2 separate regions of the Homo sapiens genome follow, and region 1 is linked to region 2. Evidence: fine-mapped expression QTL. Tissue or cell type: whole blood. Region 2 holds a variant in brackets; the other region holds the start of a gene. All regions are shown on one strand. Distances are from middle to middle. Region 1 holds the start of BCAT2 (branched chain amino acid transaminase 2). Region 2 has its middle 26 kb from the start of FGF21.

The links. PIP is the estimated chance that this variant, and not a neighbour inherited with it, causes the effect.
Region 1: it holds the start of BCAT2, and the variant in region 2 is the best candidate, but not a certain one, in a credible set for the expression of BCAT2 in whole blood (INTERVAL, PIP 0.77).

What each region holds. Positions count from the first base shown.
Region 1 is chr19:48,807,856-48,813,077 of GRCh38, reverse strand. It overlaps BCAT2 (branched chain amino acid transaminase 2), which reads left to right and starts at 2,049. Exons shown (of 11, transcript NM_001190.4): 1 at 2,049-2,094. The coding sequence starts at 2,071. LOC105372432 (a long non-coding RNA gene) reads right to left here. Exons shown (of 3, transcript XR_936017.4): 2 at 4,979-5,109; 3 at 2,241-2,734. It overlaps HSD17B14 (hydroxysteroid 17-beta dehydrogenase 14), which reads left to right. Exons shown (of 9, transcript NM_016246.3): 9 at 1-60. RefSeq lists silencers at 474-783, 1,860-2,079, a cis regulatory region at 430-970 and enhancers at 1,832-2,126, 2,400-2,469.
Region 2 is chr19:48,778,784-48,784,005 of GRCh38, reverse strand. No RefSeq gene overlaps it. Among named protein-coding and RNA genes, the nearest start is that of FGF21, 26 kb to the right of the region's middle. RefSeq lists a cis regulatory region at 2,578-3,218. The variant G/A (reference allele first, on the strand shown) is at 2,396.

The DNA of each region.
Region 1 (5,222 bases), 29 kb before region 2:
CCAGTTAGCAAGGTGCCGGGTCACCCTGCAGGTTCCCATAAAAACGATTTGCAGCCAGAAGGAGGAGGATATCGTTATATTTATTTCCCATCCTTTAGACGAGTCCTTCTGCCCCACTTAGCCCTTGCACCCCAGACCCACAAGTTGCCTCGACCCTGAAGGACTGCAGCTCCCCCCGCCCCCCAACCCCAGGCCTTGCAGCAAGCAGGTGCCTGATGTTGCTAGCCCTGTCGCTGTCGCCAGGGGCTCCTGGGAAGGGTAGAGCGGTTTGGCTTCACCAGCGCGCTAACTAAAGGCCCGCAGGGGAGAGTAAATTAAGCGCTAATTAGGAGGTAATGGAGGGGGAGACGCAGAAGGCCCTCTTACTCTTGGCCCTCAGGGAAAAGGAGTTTTCCTCTCACTGCCTGTAGAATAGGAAGGTGGCTGGCAAGAAAAGTCCAAAGGGAAGAGAAAGTAGGGGGTTGAGACATCTGGATCAGAGGGAGGAGGGGCTGAAACTCCTGGGTTTTGGTCCGCAGGGCACTGGGGGACGCAGACTCCCCAGCTGGACCCAGGGGGGGGGCAGGGCCCGGGTGCGCTGGCGTCCCCCAGGTGAGGGGTGGAGCTGCAGGGCTGCTGCGGATTGGCTGTGGCCGGGGGGGCGTGTGCACCAACCGCTGATTGGCCGCGGCGGGGGCGGGAGCTGTCAGTGGGCCCCGACCCTACAGCCCGGGGCTGGCGGGTGGGGCAGGAGGACTGGGGCGGAGCGCAGAAAAACAGGGCGACGCCCTGTGAGGGAAGGGTCCCGCGGTTTGGCTGTTTGGGCCTGTGGCTGTTAGGGGTGGCAGGATAGTGACCCGGGGACAGGACTTGGGGGCACTGTGGGGGTAGAATTTGGAGACAGAGTGTCCCAGGGTAGGATTGCCGAGACACGATGGCCGAGGGATACGATTTTTTTTTTTTTTTTTTAATTTGAGACGGAGTCTCACTCTGTCGCCCAGGCTGGAGTGCTGTGGTGCAATGTCGGCTCACTGCAACCTCCGCCTCCCGGGTTCAAGCGATTCTCCTGCCTCAGCCTCCCGAATAGCTGGGATTACAGGCCCCCGGCACCACGCTCGACTAATTTTTGTATTTTTATGTATTTATTTTTATTTATTTATTTATTTTGAGACGGAGTCTCACCCTGTCACCCAGGCTGGAAATGCAGTGGCGCGATCTCGGCTCACCGCAACGTCCGCCTCCAGGGTTCAAATGATTCTCCTGCCTCAGCCTCCCTAGTAGCTGGGATTACAGGCGCACACCACCACACCCGGCTAATTTTTGTATCTTTAGTAGAGACGGGGTTTCACCATGTTGGTCAGGCGGGTCTTGAACTCCTGACCTTGTGATCCGCCCACCTCGGCCTCCCAAAGTGCTGGGATTACAGGCGTAAGCCACCGTGCCTGGCCTTAATTTTTGTATTTTTAGTAGAGACGGGGTTTCCCCATGTCGGCCAGGCTGGTCTTGAACTCCTGGCCTCAGGTGATCCACCCGCCTTGGCCCCCAAAGTGCTGGGATTACAGGTGTGAGCCACCAAGCCAGGACTTTTTTTTTTTTTTTTTTTTGAGACGGAGTCTCACTCTGTCGCCCAGGCTGGAGTGCAGTGGCATCATCTCGGCTCACTGCAACCTCTGCCTCCCCGATTCAAGCAATTCTCCTGCCTCAGCTTTCCGAGTAGCTAAGATTACAGGCGCCCGCCACCACGCCCGGCTAATTTTTTGTATTTTTAGTAGAGACGGGGTTTCATCATGTTGGACCAGGCTGGTCTCTAACTCCTGACCTCAGGTAATCCGCCCGCTTCGGCCTCCCAAAGTGCTAAGATTACAGACCTGAGCCACTTCGCCTGGCAGGGACCGTATTTCAAGTCCTGCCCTCCCACCAGCGCCTGCGCCCCGCAGCAGTGTCCGGCTCCCTGCCGACGCCCTGGAGCTGGGACGGCCTGGGGCGCTGGTCGGCCGCCTTCCCCCAGAAGGAGGCGTGAGCGGGGCGTGGCCGGAACGTCTCTCTTCGGAGCCGCGCCCCGGGCGGGCACAGTTACGCGCCGCACGGATCATGGCCGCAGCCGCTCTGGGGCAGGTGGGTTCGCAGCCCCGCGCCGGGGTCTGGGAAATAACCGGGGGAGGCGCACTTCCGGGAAGACCACTGGCCTGCAGCCGGTCCGACTCGGCGCCGCTCCTCCCGCCCTGGGGTTCCGCTGCAGGGCGCGGAGGAGGATGGCGCCCTTTGGAAAGGAGCACGAGGCTTTAATGGGGTGAGGGGGAGCAGGTAGACGCGGATGAGGTGGGGCAAGTAATTGGCGGGGAGGTAAAAAAAAAAAAAAAAAGGGAAACATGGTGGAGGACCCTGTAATGAGGGAGGCGTGGGGGTGGGGAGGTTGTGATTTGGGGAGCGGAGCCCTGGGGTGCGGTGGGGCATCAGCCTGTGCGGGAGCTGGAATAAAGGGGCCCAGACCTCCAGGGCCGGGTGCAGGTGAAGGCAGAGTTGGACCTCAAGTCTCAGCTCTGGGAATTGGACTCAAGGTCCTATTTTCTTGGAATGAAAGTTGAAAAAAATAAGAGATGGGGATTGCTGTGCTTCCCAAACTCCTATCTGAAGCTTTGCACCTGGATTGGAAATCGAGGCAGCGTCTCATGGTCAAAGTGACAGATGCTGCAGGCTGGCTGAGACGATCCCTTCTGACTGTGCGATGTCAAACAGCAGCAGCGTTTCCCAGAGTCTATGATTTCAGAGAACAAGGTTTCTCAGTGAGGAAGGAAACAGCCAAAGAAAGGGGTCATTACAAGCCTTCACAGCTGCGGTGTAACCTTGGGAGAACTGTCTGTTAACTTTACACCTGACTTTATTTGAGTCTCTTATCCTAGCTGATGAATGTCAGGGCAGAATTTCACTTTTTTCGGCTCTTAGTGACTGATAGGGATAGTCCTGGGATACCTGGGGTATGTGGGCAATCTGGGCTTTAGTGGTGACACTCCTGGACTGTGGTGGGGCAGTACTGGGCTTTGACAGGTCCACTTGGGACTGATGTGGACCGTCTCATCATGGCACAGTTCTGGTGTCATAGAATGGCCCTGAACTCATGATGGGACATTCCTAGGCTCTGATGAAGATAGAGATATCCTGTAATGGAGATAATTGGGCTGAGTCCTCAGCTGTGATGGGGACAGTCCCGGGGTGTGGAGAGGACAGTGCTGGACCATGGTAGGGACAGTCTGGAAGGTACTGGCCTAGACAGCAACATAGGGATAGTCCTGGGGATTGAAAAAGACAACAATGGGATTTTTTTTTTTTTTTTAATTTCAGACCTGGTGAATAGGAAATAAGCCCTGATATTTGGCAGAGACAATGCTGGTTATAATGGGGAAAAGTGCTGGGCTTTGGATAGGGGACATTCCTGAGCTGTTTGGGACAGTACTTGGCTCTGCTGGGGACCAGTTCTGATAAGTTACAGGCACAATCTGGACTTGTGATGTGGAGCATCTTGGGCCATCATAGAACAGCCCTGGTCTGTGATGGGGGAGAGTCCTGGGCTATAAAGGGGGCAGTTCTAGACGTGATGGGGTCATGTGTGGGCTGTGACAAGGGCAGACTGCGGTATGATGGGGTCTCTCCGGGGCCGTGATATGGGGACAGTCCTGGAGTATGGAGGGCACTGCTGGGCTTTGACAGTGACACTCCTGGTCTTTGATGGTGATACTCCTGGGCTGTATGGGACATAATGGAGGTTCTATCACATTATAGAGACCTGCCCTGTGAACCCCCAAACGTACTTTATTTCTTTGTCTCGTCTTTTCTTTTTGACCGAGTCTTGCTCTGTTGCTCAGGCTGGAGTGCCGTGGCACGATCTCGGCTCACTGTAACCTCCGCCTCATGGGTTCAAGTGACTGTGGTGCCTCAGCCTCCCGAGTAGATGGGCTCAAGCGATCCACCTGCCTCAGATTACAGGCATGAGCCACCATGCTGGTCTTTTTTTTTTTTTTTTTTTTTTTTTTTTTTGAGAGACACTCTATCACTCATGCTGGAGTGTAGCAGTGTGATCGTAGCTCACCACAGCCTTGACCAGTAGGTCAAGGTGATCCTCCCACCTTAGCCTTCTGAGTAACTGGAATTACAGGTGTGTGCCACCATACCTGGCTAATTTTTAAATTGTTTGTAGAGACAGGGTCTTGCTATATTGCCCAGGCTGATCTTGAACTCCTGGCCTCATGCAGTCCTCCCACCTCTGTCTCCTAAAGTGCTGTGATTACAGGCATGAGCTACTGAGCCAGCTGCCTACTTTCTTTCTTTGTTTTTTTTCTTTTTAATTGAGACAGAGAGTCTTGCTCTGTCGCCCAGGCTGGAGTGCAGTGGCACCATCTCGGCTCACTGCAACCTCCGCCTCCTGGGTTTAAGCAATTCTCCTGCCTCAGCTTCCCAAGTTGCTGGGACTACAGGCGCCCGCCACCACACCCAGCTAACTTGTATTTTCTGTAGAGACAGGGTCTCCCTATGTTGCCCAGGCTGGTCTTGAACACCTGGCCTCAAGCTATCCTCCTGCCTCGGCCTCCCACAGTGCTGGGATTACAGGCGCGAGCCACTGCGTGTGGCCTCTTTCTATGATTAGATCTATTTTGGCATCTCTTGTTTCTTGGCGTCAATTTCTGTTTTTGTTTTTTTTTTTTTCTGTTTGTGCGCCCCTTTCTGTGTTTCTTTTTCTCATCCTTCCTCTTCCATCTCTTACTCTCTTTTTTTCATCTTGGCTCTGAGGGCAGCTCTCCTGCCCACAGGCTGGCTGTCGCACTGTGTTTGTGTCTCTCATACTGTGGGTGTCCTATCCCTCTGGGCAGAAGCATGGCTGCAAGGCTGAGCAGTCTAGATGTCGCCACCCAAAGGCAATCTGGGGACCCACGCTCTGATCACCCCGGAATCCCTGGAGCCTCACACCAGCAAGACCACGCTGCAGGCCCATCTCCCAGCAACTCACCTAGCGACAAGTGACCACGCCCATTCACGTCCATCTTCCAGAATCAGTGCCAACTCACCCAGCTCACAGGGCAGGCCAGGCCAGGCCACTCTGTCTCTCTCAACCTCACGCCCCAACGCCTCCCCACAGGGCTGGGGAAAGAGGCCTTGTGAGGTCAAAGGTCACCAGAGAGGGCCCAGCCTGCTGGACACAGCCAGACCTGCTCTTCCTACTCCCCTCTGGGAGGACCCGCCTGAGCCTCATG
Region 2 (5,222 bases):
TTAGCCAGGCAGAGTGGCGGGCGCCTGTAGTTGCAGCTACTTGGGAGGCTGGAGCAGGAGAATCACTTGAACCCAGGAGGCGGAAGCTGCAATGAGCCGAGATCACGCCGCTGCACTCCAGCCTGGGTGACAGAGTAAGACTTCGTCTCAAAAATAAATAAATACATAAATAAATAAAAATTAAAAAATTAGCCAGGTGTGATGGCGTACCCTTGTAATCCCAGCTACTCGTGAGGCATGAGAATAGCTTGAACCTGGGAGGTTGAGTCTGCAGTGAGCCGAAATCATGACACTGCATTTCAGCCTGGGTGACAAAGCAAGACTCAAAAAAAAAAAAAAAATTTTTTTTTCATCCTAAGATCTGGGGTGAGACTCCCTGGTTGGCAATACTGCATGCGTTTTGGCACACGTCATTACCGGGAGAATTGAGCACTGTCTAGAACTCCACTGGGGGAGGACATCTGAAAGCTCACGCCTGGTGTCTCCTGGACTCTGCCCCATCCACGTTTTCCCTTGGCTGATGATGACGATGATGATGACGATGATGATGATGATGATTATTATTATTATTTTGAGACGGAGTCTCGCTCTGTCGCCCAGGCTGGAGTGCAGTGGTGCGATCTTGGCTCACTGCAACCTCCGCCTCCTGGGTTCATGCCATTCTCCTGCCTCAGCCTCCCGAGTAGCTGGGATTCCAGGCGTGTGCCACCACGCCCAGCTAATTTTTTGTATTTTTTAGTAGAGACAGGGTTTCACCATGTTGGTCAGCTGGTCTTGAACTCCTGACCTCAGGTGATCCACCTGCCTTGGACTCCCAAAGTGCTAGGATTACAGGCGTGAGCCACCACGCCCGGCGTACAGTTTAAATTTATAAACATAAAAGAATTTGGGGGCCAGGCGCGGTGGCTCACGCCTGTAATCCTAGCCCTTTGGGAGAACGAGGCGGGCAGATCGCTTGAGCTCAGAAGCTCGAGACCAGCCTGGGCAACATGGCAAAACCCCATTTCTACAAAAAATTTAAAAATTAGCTGAGCGTGGTAGCGAGTACCTGTAATCCCAGATACTCGGGAGGCTGAGGTGGGGGATCGCTTGAGTCCAGGAGTTCCAGGTTGCAGTGAGCAGAGATCGCGCCACTGCCCTCCATCCTGGGCGACAGAGTCAGACCTTGTTTCAATAAATAAATAAATAAATAAATAAATAAATAAATAAATAAATAAATAAATAAATAAGGTGAGGGGGGTATTTCTGAAATGACGTGGAAGCTCGGATTCTTTTTTCCAGAAGCCTCAGTTCAGAGTCTTTTCCAAGGGCCGGTTGCGGAGTTTGAGGATAGAGCACTAAGAGCACCCAATAGGAATGACTGAAAGCCCATGACGTCACTAGTGGCTGGGCAACAGCTCCAGAGTGCCTCTCGCTGACCTGCTTCGGGAAGTGGCCCCCGGTTCGCGTCACATGCCAGCCCCTGGCCTGCGTCACAGACCAGGATACACACCCAAATCCCAGGGGCCAGGAAATGTGTTCCCCGTGAAACCAAATTTAGCAAAGGAAAGAATGCAACAACTTTTAAACTCATTAAAGGCTCCCTGGCCGGGCGCGGTGGCTCACGCCTGTAATCCCAGCACTTTGGGAGGCCGAGGCGGGAGGATCACAGGGTCAGGAGATCGAGACCATCCTGGCTAACACGGTGAAAGCCCGTCTCTACTAAAAATACAAAAAATTAGCCGGGCGTGGTGGTGGGCGCCTGTAGTCCCCGCTACTCGGGAGGAGGGAGGCTGGGGCAGGAGAATGGCGTGAACCCGAGAGGCGGAGCTTGCAGTGAGTCGAGATCGCGCCACTGCACTCCAGCCTAGGCGACAGAGAGCTGTCTCAAAAAAAAAAAAAAATTGTGTTCCCCTTCCATGGATCTTATCTAGAAAAAAACACCTGTTTTTCTCAGGCTCACACTCAACACTTCTGTGACCAGGTGTGTGGGGTTTTTCCCACGCTGACAAATTCTCCTACCCAAGCTGGGTGTCCCACAATTCAATCCAACTCTGACATTATCTACCTGGAGATAGCATCGGATCCCACAGGTGAAAGGCTCAGTCCCACGAGGCTGCCCCTTGGGAGATGCCAATCACAAGTCCACGTGGTCTCACCCGAGCTTCTGACTTGCTAGTAATGGGGGTTCCCATGACTCCCTCCTTAGGCTCAGAAATTTGCTACAATGCCTCACAGAACTAAGGAAAACACATTTATCAGTTTATCATATAATTAAATAAAACCTGTCAGATAAAGAGGTGCAAAGGGCAACATCTGAACGCCTCCCGAGCACGGGAGCAAAGGATGGGTTTGGGGGAGCTTCCAGGTTGGGCGTCTCCATGGAGTTGGGGTGCTTCCCCGCCCGGAACTGTGG[G/A]CAGAGAGCCACCCAGGTGCTGAGGCAAGAGATTGAAGGCACATACTGTTTCAATATAATAAAGAAAATACTTAGAATAAGAAAAGTTATACTAGCAATAGGATATAGAGATGATTATATATGGATATTATCAATTATTAGTTTTAGTATTAATCTCTGTTTTATTATTATAACTGAGGAAAAACCAGGCGATACAGAGTCAGGAGCTGAAGGGACATGGTGAGATGTGACCAGAAGACAAGAGTGAAAGTCCTCCGCCACGCCCAGATAAGGGCTTAAGGACGCCTTGGTCTAGTGGTAGCACCAGTGCCTGGGAAGGCACCCGTTACTTAGCAGACCGGGAAAGGGAGTTTCCCCTTCCTTGGGGGAGTTAGAGAACACTCTGCCTCACCAGCCTCTTGTGGGAGGCCGGACATTAGCCAGGCCTGCCCACAGTCATCCGGAGGCTTAAACATCTCCCTGTGGTACTGTGCTTCAGTGGTCATGATCCTTGTCCACTTTCATGTTCCGCCTGTACACCTGGTTCCTCTTTTAAGTTCCTGGGAGATAGCAGTAGCAGAAATAGTGAAAATATTAAAGTCTTTGATCTCTCTGATAAGTACATAGAAAAAATGCTGACCGTATGCTGTCTTCCCTCTCTGCTTCGTCTACCAAAAAGGGAAAGGCCCCCTGTCACATGGACACGTGACTTGCTTGACCTTATTAATCATTTGAGATGACTCACACTCCTTACCCTGCCCCCTTGCCTTGTATACAATAAATAGCAGCAGTCCAGGCATTCGAGGCCACTAATGGACTCCATGCACTGGTGGTAGTGGCCCCCTGGGCCCAGCTGTCTTTCATACTCTCTCTTAGTTTCATGTCTTTCTTTCTACAATCTCTCATCTCCACACACGAAGAGAAAACCCACAAGGCCCTGTAGGGCTGGACGCTACAAGGAACCTCTCCCACCCCCATACTTTAGGGACTTTTATGGAGACTTCAGCGCATAAGTAGGATAGATTAGTAATTCCAGCTCCAGTTCCCTCTTCTTCCGGAAAGATGTGGAGTGGGATGGGGCTACAGGTTCCATGCTTCTAATATTGACTGAGTCTTGCTGGTGATCAGCCCCCATCAGGAGCCCACCAAGAGTCACCTCATTAGAAAAAAAGGTGCTCTCAGCTGGGTGTGGTGGCTCACGCCTGTAATCCCAGCACTTTGGGAGGCCAAGGGGGTAGATCACCTGAAGTCAGGAGTTCCAGACCAACCTTGCCAACATGGTGAAACCCCCGTCTCTACTAAAAATACAAAAATTAGCCAGGCATGGTGGCGGGCACCTGTAGTCCCAGCTACTTGGGAGGCTGAAGCAGGAGACTTGCTTGAACCCAGGAGGCAGAGGTTGCAGTGTGTGGAGATTGCACCACTGCACTCCAGCCTGGTGACAGAGCAAGACGCTGTCTCAAACAAAAAAAAAAAAAAAAAAAAAAAAAAAAAAGGGAAGAAGAAAATAAAAAGAAAAAAGAAAAAATGATGCTCCCATTACTCAGGAAATTCCAAGGGATTTAGGAGCCCTTTGTCGGGAACTGGGGTCAAAGATCAAATATTAGAACAAAAGATGCTGCTGGCATCCCTAACACTGGGGAAATTATAAGGGGTTTCAAAGCTCTGTCCCAGAAACTGGGGGGACAGAGACCAAATATATATTTGTTATTGTGTGACAGTGCCCCTGGGGGGATTATATCTCCCAGCACCCCTTGCAAGTCACTGGGGTTATGTGAGTGGTTCTGGCCAATGAGAAGAGCCCTGCCTCACTTCCAGCCACACCCATTAGGGAACTTCTAATGTGCCCTCTCTCTTTTCTCTACCTGCCGGTTGGATGCAGATAGCAGTGTAGTAGTCATCTATTGCTGTCTAACAAATTACCCCTGAGTTAATTCCTCACAGCTTAAACAACAAATATTTATTGTATCACATAGTTTTTTTTTTCCCTTCTCTCTCTCTCTTTTTTTTTTAGTAGCTGGGATTACAGGCACCTACCACCACACCTGGCTAATTTTTTTTTTTTTTTTGAGACGGAGTCTCGCTCTGTCACCAGGCTGGAGTGCAGTGGCATGATCTCTGCTCACTGCAAGCTCTGTCTCCTGGGTTCACGCCATTTTCCTGCCTCAGCCTCCCAAGTAGCTGGGACCACAGGCACCCACTGCCACACCTGGCTAATTTTTTGTATTTTTAGTAGAGATGGGGTTTCACCGTGTTAGCCAGGATGGTCTCGATCTCCTGACCTCGTGATCCACCTGCCTCGGCCTCCCAATTTTTGTATTTTTAGTAGAGATGGCCCTGAACTCCTGACCTCAAGTGGTCTGCCTGCCTCGGCCTCCCAAAGTTCTGGGATTACAGGTGTCAGCCATGGTGCCTGGCCTTCTCACATAGTTTCTGGAGGGTCAGGAATCCCAAGCAGCTCGGCTGGGTGTTCCTGGTTCAGGTTTCAGTCAAGCTTGTCAGCCAGGACTGCAGTCATGTGAAGGCTCGACAGAGGCTGGAGAACCCTCTTTTTTTTTTTCTCTCGAGACAGAGTCTCAGAGTCTCACTCTGTTGCCCAGGCTGGAGTGCAGTGGCACAGTCTCCACTCACTGAAACCTTTGCCTCCCAGGTTTAAGTGATTCTCCTGCGTCAGCCTCCCGAGTAGCTGGGATTACAGGCACGTGCCACCACACCCAGCTAATTTTTTGTATTTTTAAGTAGAGACGGGATTTCACCATGTTGGCCAGGCTGGTTCTCGAACACCTGGCTTCAAGTTATCCACTTGCTTTGGCCTCCCAAAATGCTGGTATTACAGGTGTGAGCCACT